Linked DNA regions of Homo sapiens. The protein of the gene in region 1 interacts with the protein of each later gene in a biochemical or structural test. Each region holds a gene or a part of one and is shown in the gene's direction. Other genes may lie near its edges. The genes, in order: DEDD2 and CFLAR.

What was found.
Region 2: the proteins of DEDD2 (region 1) and CFLAR form a complex in vitro, tested with the Homo sapiens proteins (2 studies listed by BioGRID).

Annotation. Positions count from the first base shown.
Region 1 is NC_000019.10:42,197,895-42,200,767, reverse strand, and holds the end of DEDD2 (DNA-binding death effector domain-containing protein 2), read left to right. Parts: intron 1-938; coding exon 939-1,330; 3' UTR 1,331-2,170; downstream 2,171-2,873. UniProt on the Homo sapiens protein: May play a critical role in death receptor-induced apoptosis and may target CASP8 and CASP10 to the nucleus. May regulate degradation of intermediate filaments during apoptosis.
Region 2 is NC_000002.12:201,111,641-201,119,326, forward strand, and holds the start of CFLAR (CASP8 and FADD-like apoptosis regulator), read left to right. Parts: upstream 1-4,523; 5' UTR 4,524-4,841; exon of another isoform or gene 4,842-5,044; intron 5,045-7,075; exon of another isoform or gene 7,076-7,261; intron 7,262-7,387; exon of another isoform or gene 7,388-7,686. UniProt on the Homo sapiens protein: Apoptosis regulator protein which may function as a crucial link between cell survival and cell death pathways in mammalian cells. Acts as an inhibitor of TNFRSF6 mediated apoptosis.

The DNA of each region.
Region 1 (2,873 bases):
GGGGAGTTGAGTGTAGCTGAAAATCCAGCTACGATCGTGGGCTCATGTGATGACCTCAGGAATCTTTTTATCTCTGGGGCTGGCCCTGCGTAGGCTTCCTTCTCTCCTCTTGGCACAGTGGCTCCCAGCAGCTCTGGGCTTCCAACCCATCATCTTAGCAGCTCTGTGGCAAGAGAGTACCTGACTCCCAGTAGAGCCAGCACAGGTCCAGCCGCAAGCCTCCCGGGCCTGGTCAGGACCCTGCGCATCCGCAGTGCTGGCTCAGGTGGATGGGAGGGATGGGGATGTGGTTGGCACCATGTGAATCTCATTGTTTGGGGGCAGGGTGTGAGGCTGGTTGCCTTAAGGCAAGTCCATTAGTTCATGCATTAGTTCTTCACAAATACATATTGAACACCTACTATGTGCCACAGTTACACAAGTGAACAAAACAGACAAAAACCCCTTCCTTGCTGTCATCTGTCTCTCCATGCTGAGTGTAGAGACAGATAATGAGCAGATAGTAACTGACAGAGGAGGTTGGAAGGTGATAAGTGCCTTGGACAAAAATGGAGCAGGGTGTGGGACCTGGCATGCTGCAGAGAGGGCTGGGTGGGTGGTTACAGCTGTAAATAGGTTGGCCTAGGTGGGCCTTGTTGGCAAGGTGGCTTTTGAGCAAAGACCTGCAGGAAGAGAGGGAGCAAGTGTTGTGCAGATCCAGGGAAAGAGCACCCCTGGCGGTGGGGAGGCTTGTTGGAGCAGTGAGGAGGTGGTGGGCTGGAGAAGAGGAGGACGTACTTGGTCAGGGAACCCCACAGAGCCGGGGAGGCTGTGTCAGGACTAGGGTGTGGCTACCGGAAGGGGGTGGAGGGAGAAGGCTGGAGGGAGGAAGGGTGGCGTTCCCCATAAGTGTGTCTAGTGTTGGCCCCCTCCCTGACAAATCCCTCCTTCCCCTGCAGACATCCGGCTCCGGGTTCGAGCAGAGTACTGCGAGCATGGGCCAGCCTTGGAGCAGGGCGTGGCATCCCGGCGGCCCCAGGCGCTGGCGCGGCAGCTGGACGTGTTTGGGCAGGCCACCGCAGTGCTGCGCTCAAGGGACCTGGGCTCTGTGGTTTGTGACATCAAGTTCTCAGAGCTCTCCTATCTGGACGCCTTCTGGGGCGACTACCTGAGTGGCGCCCTGCTGCAGGCCCTGCGGGGCGTGTTCCTGACTGAGGCCCTGCGAGAGGCTGTGGGCCGGGAGGCTGTTCGCCTGCTGGTCAGTGTGGATGAGGCTGACTATGAGGCTGGCCGGCGCCGCCTGTTGCTGATGGAGGAGGAAGGGGGGCGGCGCCCGACAGAGGCCTCCTGATCCAGGACTGGCAGGATTGATCCCACCTCCAAGTCTCCGGGCCACCTTCTCCTGGGAGGACGACCATCTCTACCCCTAGAGGACTGTCACTCTAGCATCTTTGAGGACTGCGACAGGACCGGGACAGCAGGCCCCTTGACAGCCCCTCCCACAGGATGTGGGCTCTGAGGCCTAAACCATTTCCAGCTGAGTTTCCTTCCCAGACTCCTCCTACCCCCAGGTGTGCCCCCTTAGCCTCCGGAGGCGGGGGCTGGGCCTGTATCTCAGAAGGGAGGGGCACAGCTACACACTCACCAAAGGCCCCCCTGCACATTGTATCTCTGATCTTGGGCTGTCTGCACTGTCACAGGTGCACACACTCGCTCATGCTCACACTGCCCCTGCTGAGATCTTCCCTGGGCCTCTGCCCTGGCCTGCTTCCCAGCACACACTTCTTTGGCCTAAGGGCTTCTCTCTCAGGACCTCTAATTTGACCACAACCAACCTGGGCTTCAGCCACATCAGTGGGCACTGGAGCTGGGGTGCACATGGGGCCTGCTCACCTTGCCCACACATCTCCAGCCAGCCAGGGCCCTGCCCAGCTTCAATTTACAGACCTGACTCTCCTCACCTTCCCCCCTGCTGTCCAGAGCTGAACATAGACTTGCACTTGGATGTCACCTGGAGTGTCACATGGGAGTGTTATGGCAGCATCATACCAAGGCCTACTGTTGCACATGGGGCCAAAACCAGTAAACAGCCACCTTCTTGGAAAGGGAATGCAAAGGCTTTGGGGGTGATGGAAAAGACCTTTTACAAATGATACCAATTAAACTGCCCTGGAAAGGGCATAGGTGGGCATCGGCCTCTCTAGGACTCTTTATTTATTATTTAATTTAAATTTTTTTTTTAGAGTTGAGGGTCTTGATATGTTGCCCAGGCCAGCCTCAAATTCCTGGGCTCAAGCGATCCTCCTGCCTCAGCCTCCCAAGTAGCTGGGACTACAGGTGCCCGTCACCATGCCCAGCTTTTGGACCTCAGTGGGCTGGGAGGAGGAGTGTTCCTGGCCCAGCGTTAGGGACTGGAGTGTGGGCAGGATGCTGGACCATATGCCAGCTGATAACCACACGCTTGTCCTCCCCTCTGGGTGTCAGTCTTGTCCTCTGTCAAAGGAAGAAATAGAATACTGCCTCGGAGTCAGAAACCCTTCCAACCATGTTCACACATGCTTTGCTCCTGTATGTCCTTGGGGGCTCCCAGGAATTTTTTTTTTTTTTTTTTTTTGAGACGGAGTCTTGCTCTGTTGCCCAGGCTGGAGTGCAGTGGCATGATCTCAGCTCACTGCAAGCTCCGCCTCCCAGGTTCACGCCATTCTCCTGCCTCAGCCTCCCGAGTAGCTGGGACTACAGGTGCCCGCCACCACGCCCGGGTAATTTTTTGTATTTTTAGTAGAGACGGGGTTTCACCATGTTAGCCAGGATGGTCTCGATCTCCCGACCTTGTGATCCGCCCGCCTCAGCCTCCCAAAGCGCTGGGATTACAGGCGTGAGCTGCTGCACCCGGC
Region 2 (7,686 bases), on another chromosome or scaffold:
ACTTGGGAGGCTGAGGCAGGAGAATCACTTGAACCCAGGAGGCGGAGATTGCAGTGAGCCGAGATCGTGCCACTGCACTCCAGCCTGGGTGACAGAGTGAGACTCTGTCTCAAAAAAAAAAAAAAAAAAAAAAATTAGCTGGGCATGCTGGCGCGCACCTGCAGTCCCAGCTACTCGGGAGGCTGAGGCAGGAGAATCGCTTGAACCCGGGAGGCGGAGGTTGCAGTGAGCTGAGATCATGCCACTGCACTCCAGCCTGGCGACAGAGCGAGACTCCATCTCAAAAAAAAAAAGAATGTATTCTTTTTAAACTAAATTTATTTATATATATTTTTTGAGACGGGGTTTCACTCTGTCATCCAAGCTGGAGTACAGTGCTGTGCTCATGGTTTACTGCAACCTCAACCTGCCTGGCTCAAGTGATCCTCCCACTTCAGCCTCTTGAGTAGCTGGGACCACATGTATGCATCACTACACCTGGCTAATTTTTTAATTTTTTGTAGAGACAGGCTCTCCCTGTATTGCCCAGGCTGATCTTGAACACCTGGGTTCAAGTGTTCCTTCTGCCTTGGCTTCCCAAAGTGCTGGGTTTATAGGCATGAGCTACCATACCCAGCCAAGAATATATTCTCCCAGAATGTCAGAGGAGTTGAGGCAGGATGTGTGGCTAAGAGAGTAGATATAAAGTCATTGCTGTGGCTATTAATTCTCCATTCCCAAGTCACCCACTGTGATATAAGGAAAAGCATTAGATAAATTCTTGGCATCCTGTCCTAGTCCTGTCACTAGCTAGTTGTGAGATGTCTCAATTTATTAACTCACTTTAAGCCTCAGATTCTTCATCTGAAAATTGGGTTGTGGTTGACGGAGTGAGAAAATGTTTGGATTAGATCAGTTGTTCTGAATCTTAACTGTACATTGAAATCACACGGGGAGCTTTAAAAACTACCAATCCCTGGGTCTCACTCTCAGAGATTTTGATACAATTAGTCTGGAATGGTACCTGGCCACTGAGGTTTTTGCAGCTCCTTGGGGACAGTCTAATGTGCAGCCAAGGTTTACAACCAGTGAATTTGATGAAAACGTGAACATTTGTTGCTACTTTGTTAAGTGTGGAAACAGAAAGTCAGAGAGGCTTAAGCAATACTGCCCTTGGACCCAGGCACTGGGGGTCCTGTTGTGGGCCCTGATTTAGAAGGGCCTTGCTCCGGCTCTTCTTGGGCTGTGCCCTTCCCTCAGGTGAGGAGAATCATCAGAGGTGGGAGGAGTCTGCAAGGTCAAGAGGACATGCCCACACCGAGACCCTCTGTTTAAAACCCTCTTTGGGGCTGGGTGTGGTGGCTCTCGCCTGTAATTCCAGCACTTTGGGAGGCCAAGGTGGGCAGATCACTTGAGGCCAGGAGTTCAAGACCAGCCTGGCCAACGTAGTGAAACCCTGTCTCCACTAAAAATACAAAAATCAGCCGGATATGGTGGTGCGCGCATATAATCCCAGCTATTTGAGAGGCCGAGGCAAGGGAATTGCTTGGGCCTGGGAGGCAGAGGTTGCAGTGAGCCAGGATTGTGCCACTACACTCCAGCCTGGGTGACAGAGTGAGACTACGTCTCAAAAAAACAAAAAGAATAAACCCTCTTTGGGTACCTAAGACCTGAAGTTCTCTACGCAAAGAGCCCTGAGCCTCCCACCAGGGCCTACATTGGCCTCTTCCCCAAGTCCATACCCCAGGGACAAACTATGCTGCAAGTATGCACATCCCTAAGCCCAAGGGGTGGCTGATTTTAAGAGGATGTAAATGGAAAGTGGACTGCAGGTGGGAGTGTCAACATAGGTGTATACAGTCATTCTTTGAGGGCTGCTGAAGCCAAAGGATAAGGATGGCACAGGGGTAGGGGGTTAAATGCCTGCCCCTACTGGTTTGCCAAATGGGATGACAACATGGGCTTCCAATGTGAGCCAGAAAAAGCCCTCAGGGAACGACATATGGATATGCTGGGTTAGAAGTCATACTGGTGTGTGTTGAAGTGGTAAGAATCAGTGGGCATGCAAGGTGGGCCTGGGGTAAGTCCACTATGATGGTTCTACTGACAACCAGAAATGGCTTTCACTTGGGATAGGGTGGGTTGGAGGTGGTGATGGAGGTGCTAAGCTAGGTGTTCTTGAATAGTAGTTTCCAAATTAAGGACAGGTGCTGATCTGTAATAAAATTTTCTTGGTGTACTAAAAAGATAAGAAAGGCCAAGAGCAGCAGTGGTCATGCCTGTAATCCCAGTGCTTTGGAAGACCTAGGCAGGAAGATCACTTGAGGCAAGTTCAAAACCAGCCTGGGCAACATAGCAAGACTCCCTGCCACCCACGACCCCCGCTTCTACTAGATATATATATATATATATATATATATATATATATTTTTTTTTTTTTTTTTTTTTTTTTTTTTTTTGAGATGGAGTCTTACTCTGTCTCCCAGGCTAGAGTGCACTGGCATAATCTAGGCTCACTGCAACCTCCGCCTCCCGGGTTCAAGCAATTCTCTGCCTTAGCCTCCTGAGTAGCTGGGATTACAGGCGCCCGCCATCACACCCAGTTAATTTTTTGTATTTTTAGTAGAGATGGGGTTTCACTATCTGGGCCAGGCTGGTCTTGAACTCCTGACCTCGTGATCCACCCGCCTCAGCCTCCCAAAGTGCTGGGATTACAGGCATAAGCCATTGCGCCGGGCCACAAATTTTTTTTTAAAGAATTAGCTGGGCATGGTGGCACCTGTAGTGGCACACCTAGCATGGTGGCATGCTAGGACCTGTAGTCCTAGCTACTCAGGAGGCTGAGGCAGAAGGATCACTTGAACCTGGGAGGTTAAGGCTGCAGTGAGCTGTGATCGGGTCACTGCACTCCAGCCTGGAGTGAGACCCTGTCTCAAAAACAAACAAAAAACCAAACTTGGATAACTGACAGAGTTTAGGATAGAATTACATGGAAAAACCAACAAAACAAGACAATTATTAACTCCAGAAAAAACTAAAAGTTGTGTGGGAAAGGAAAAGTAATCATAGTTTGGTACATAACTTGGCTGTGACTACCGTTTACATGATTATAATAGCATATATACTGAAGATTAATCAAACAGAATATAACTATCTTGGGAAGATGGAGAGATTAAAAAAAAAGGTTGGGGGTGAATATGGGGTGAAAGTGATGGAGAAAAAGAGCTGAAGTCTCCTCTGGTGTCTCAGCACTCCACCCAAGGTAGAGCCTCTGGATGGAAGAAGGAATCTCCCACCTCTCCACCACACTCCCCCAGGATTTACCTTCAGCATCAGGTAGCTAGGGGCAAGATGAGAAATGCTGATATGCTGGTCTCTGACTGGGAGCTGTGGGAAGAGAGAGGTTCTGAGTTGCAGCAGTCTGGAGTGGAGTCTCTTGCTGAACAAAGGGAGAGGTTTGGTTTAAATACCACAGACTGACTCTCACATTCTGATCCAAGAGTTTTCATAGATTTTTTGGAACAGATGTTTCTTCATTTGCTGTTTGCCCTTAGGACCATTTCAAAGGCTTTAAATGGTTAATGGTTGTTTGTTGTTTTAAATAATTTTCAGTTTCACTAGGGGTGAATCCCGAGCTCTTCATGCCGTCCTGCTGTTAGTCTCTCTTGGTATTATTCTTCACCTTTCCTGTGAGTTTAAAATTATCTCAAGAAAAGTTAAAGCTCTTTAAGAATCACAATAAAGTAGTTATTAGGAATAAATAAAAACGTAGAGGGGCGCGGTGGCTCACGCCTGTGATCCCAGCACTTTGGGAGGCCGAGGCGGGCAAGGATCACTTGAGGCCAGCAGTTGGAGACCAGCCTTGCCAACATGGTGAAACCCCATCTCTACTAAAAATACAAAAAAAAAAAAAAATTAGTCGGGCATGGTGGCTTGCACCTGTGGTCCCCGCTACTTGGGAGGCTGAGGGCTGGATGGTTTGAGAGCGGGAAATCCAGGCTGCAGTGAGCTGTGATGGCGCCACTGCCTTCTAGCCTGGGCGACAGCGCGAGACCCTGTCTCAAGAAGGAAAACAAAAAAAAACAAACAAAAACATACACACAAAAAACCACAAAGTGTGTTCACGTTTGCTATGACTCCCAGACAACAATTGTAAACACTCGCGCCGGGCGTGGTGGCTCACGCCTGTAATCCCAGCACTTTGGGAGGCCGAGGCGGGCGGATCACGAGGTCAAGAGTTCGAGACCATTCTGGCCAACAGTGAAACCCCGTCTCTACTAAACACAAAAATTAGGCGGGCGTGCTGGCGCGTGCCTGTAGTCCCAGCTACTCGGGAGGCTGAGGCAAGAGAATCGCTTGAACTAGGAAGGCGGAGGTTGCAGTGAGCTGAAATTGCGCCACTGCACTCCAGCCTGGGCCACAGAGCGAGACTCTGTCTCAAAAAAGAAGGAAAGAAAGAAAGAAAAAAAAAAACACTCGCAGTGTTTACTCCTAACGCGTGGAACTTGTGTCGACATCCACCCCCGGTTACTGCATACTCAGTCACACAAGCCATAGCAGGAAACAGCGAGCTTGCAGCCTCACCGACGAGTCTCAACTAAAAGGGACTCCCGGAGCTAGGGGTGGGGACTCGGCCTCACACAGTGAGTGCCGGCTATTGGACTTTTGTCCAGTGACAGCTGAGACAACAAGGACCACGGGAGGAGGTGTAGGAGAGAAGCGCCGCGAACAGCGATCGCCCAGCACCAAGTCCGCTTCCAGGCTTTCGGTTTCTTTGCCTCCATCTTGGGTGCGCCTTCCCGGCGTCTAGGGGAGCGAAGGCTGAGGTGGCAGCGGCAGGAGAGTCCGGCCGCGACAGGACGGTACGTGCCCCGCGCTCGACCCCCGCGCTGGCGGCGCCGGAGCTGTCCCAGACCCCAAGCCCCGACGCCCGGCCCTGAGTCAGCATTGCAGCAGGCCCTGCGCCGCCGCGCCCCGCGTCCCACCCCGCGCCGCTCCTCACAGCCCTGCGCTCCGGGAAACTGCAGGTGGCCGGCAGTGGCCAGGGGATGGCGGGGGCGCTTCTGGAACCTGACTCAGTTTTGTAGGTTCCTTATCTCGGTTGTTTACCGCGGGCTTTGCGGAATGCCCCCGCTTCCGTTTCCGCCCGGCTCCGAACCCCCGAACCCCTTCTACCCGCAACTCCGCCCCGGATTCCCAGAAAGGGGCGACCTGGGCCACAGCGGTACAAGCTGCACCCCGATGGACCTGAGAGACCGGAAGTAACCCTTGGCCAACTCTGGCCGCCCCCTGCAGCCGCAGCCCCAGAGGCCCACCCGCGAGCTTCAGTGGCGGGCCCTCAGCGTCGTGTAAACTTTGCTTAAAATGATCTTGAGAGTTCAATTCTTGGGGTGAACTGTTGAGAAGATCTGGCATTTTTCCTTTCGAAAGTTGTTGGGAACGTGGACTTTCCCAACAATTGTGTATGCGCTCGATCTCACTCAGTGGGAGCCGCCGCCCTGGAGGGAATTTCACAATAGCCTGGTCAGGGCGGTTATTTTCCAGAGCAGTTTAATGTCTATTTTGCCCAAGTGCAAGGAAAGCTTGCCTTGGGAAAGCTGGGAATGCTTGGCTAATGAAAAGTTTTTAGAGCCTTTTAAAATGAACCTGTTTCTGCCACTTTTCCACCGCCTCAAAACGACTGGGAAATGTAAACTGGCTTCAAGATGTTCTTGCTTGAGGGTGTCTGGATTTGGACAGAAGGCCATGTTCTTTTAATATTAACAGTGGCACGCAGTAGAACAAAGGCCACTGAAATTCAGAATCAGTTTTTGGCTCCACGGGCAGGAAGTAAATTCAAGGACGCCAGAGGTCTTGCGAATATTTTAATTGGTTGACATTTGAAATTTGTTCTTAAGCAATGAGGGGTGAAACCAGTAGGGGGATAGCGTATAGCATAAGTAAAGCTTTTTGGACATCAACAAACTGCGATAATCTACAACAGACAGCGGGCTCTGGAAGGTTTGACCTGCTTTAGAGAGAGATTTCCGATAAGAGGAACGGAGTTTTTGGCACTTTTCGGTTTGGTGATTCCCCTAAATAACCTTACAAAAGTTTCGTTGAACAAAAAACCTGGCTGGAGCTCCAAGATCTTTTTTTTTTTTTTTTTTTTTTGAGACAGCATTTCACTCTTGTTGCCCAGGCTGGAATGCAATGGCACTATCTCTGCTCACCGCAACCTCCGCCTGTCGGGTTCAAGCGATTCTCGTGCCTCAGCCTCTCAAGTAGCTGAGATTACAGGCATGCACCACCATGCCCGGCTAGTTTTGTATTTTTAATAGAGACGGGGTTTCTCCATGTTGGTCAGTCTGGTCTCGAACTCCTGACCTTAGGTGATCCGCCCGCCTCGGCATCCCAAAGTGCTGGGATTACAGGCGTGAGCCACCATGCCCGGCCCAACTCCAAGATCTAAACAAAAAAGACTGGGTTGAAAGGGAGTTTTTAATGTTTACTGTTTGCTTTACATCCATTTTCTTGTTTTGTTAATACTTGCTTTACTTAAGCTTTTGGGTCAAATGTCCTCGTTAAAATGGCTTTCTCTAGCGACTTTATGTTTTACGTTTCTGTTTGTAACTGACATTTGACCTTCTTTTAACACGGTATTACTTGCTTCCTTATACCGGTTTCCAAGGTGAAGCCATTTGCAGGGTCGCTGGGTTTCCCCCTCCCCCCGAAAGTCTTGCGCGACCCGGGGTGGGCCGGATAGTGTGCAGTTTTTTGAGCCTTGGGCTGGGGACCTCCAGGAAGCTGAAGCGGAAATTGCCTAGGCCCCTGGGGCATTGGAGGTCCTACCGCAGCTCCTAGTAGGTGGTGGGGGCGCAGCGGCTGTCCCCACTCAGTCCTGGTGGGGTCGCACGTAACGGTCCTGAGCTATGCATAAGCCGTTTGACCACGCATGGAGAATTTTACCACCCAGAGACACGCGAGTGGCCCTGTGCAAGTTTCAACTGCGCGGGGGGCGGGGAATTCCGCAGACAGGATTCTAGAATTTATGTCTTGTGTGGTAACATTTCAGCCGGTGGGTGGCGGGGATTAGGCGTGAAGCGGTTCAGCAGGCAGAGGTTCTCGGACGCCCTCCGGCGAAGCCACCTGTTGATGCTTTTGACTTTCTGTCCTTGTTCCTCGTCCCATCTGGAGCATTTCCAATTCTGGTTTTGCGGAGCAGCAGGTCTGAGCTTGTCCGGCGAGGGTGGGAGTTGGTCCCGGCGGAGATCCAGTGGGAAGAGCCGGCGGCTGCCCGGGCGTGAGTAGACCGAGAATCCTGCCCGATCCCCGCCCCTGGGCTGGTGTCGCCCTGGGCTCCTGGGACGTCGGGGCACTGTCCCCCGATACTGGCAGAAAAGGATTGAGTCCTCGCTTTTGGCCCTAGGTCTCCTTGAGCCTCCAGAGGACTCACAACACTCCGGGGCATGTTGCTCTTTCAAATACCAGGAATGGACTCTGGGGAATGGGGCACCCTTGAAGTCTGATTATTTCTTCCCTGTAGAGCCCCAGGGGCTAATTAAACTCGTGTTTATGGACTCCAATGCCTCCTTGCCTTTAATTCAGTATAATCCTACCAACATTTATTGAGCTTCTCTGGGCCAGGCAGAGTTCTGGGTGCCGAGGACATAGAAATGGATCTAAACTTGGTTCTTGTCCCCATAACCTCACAATGTGGTTGAGGAA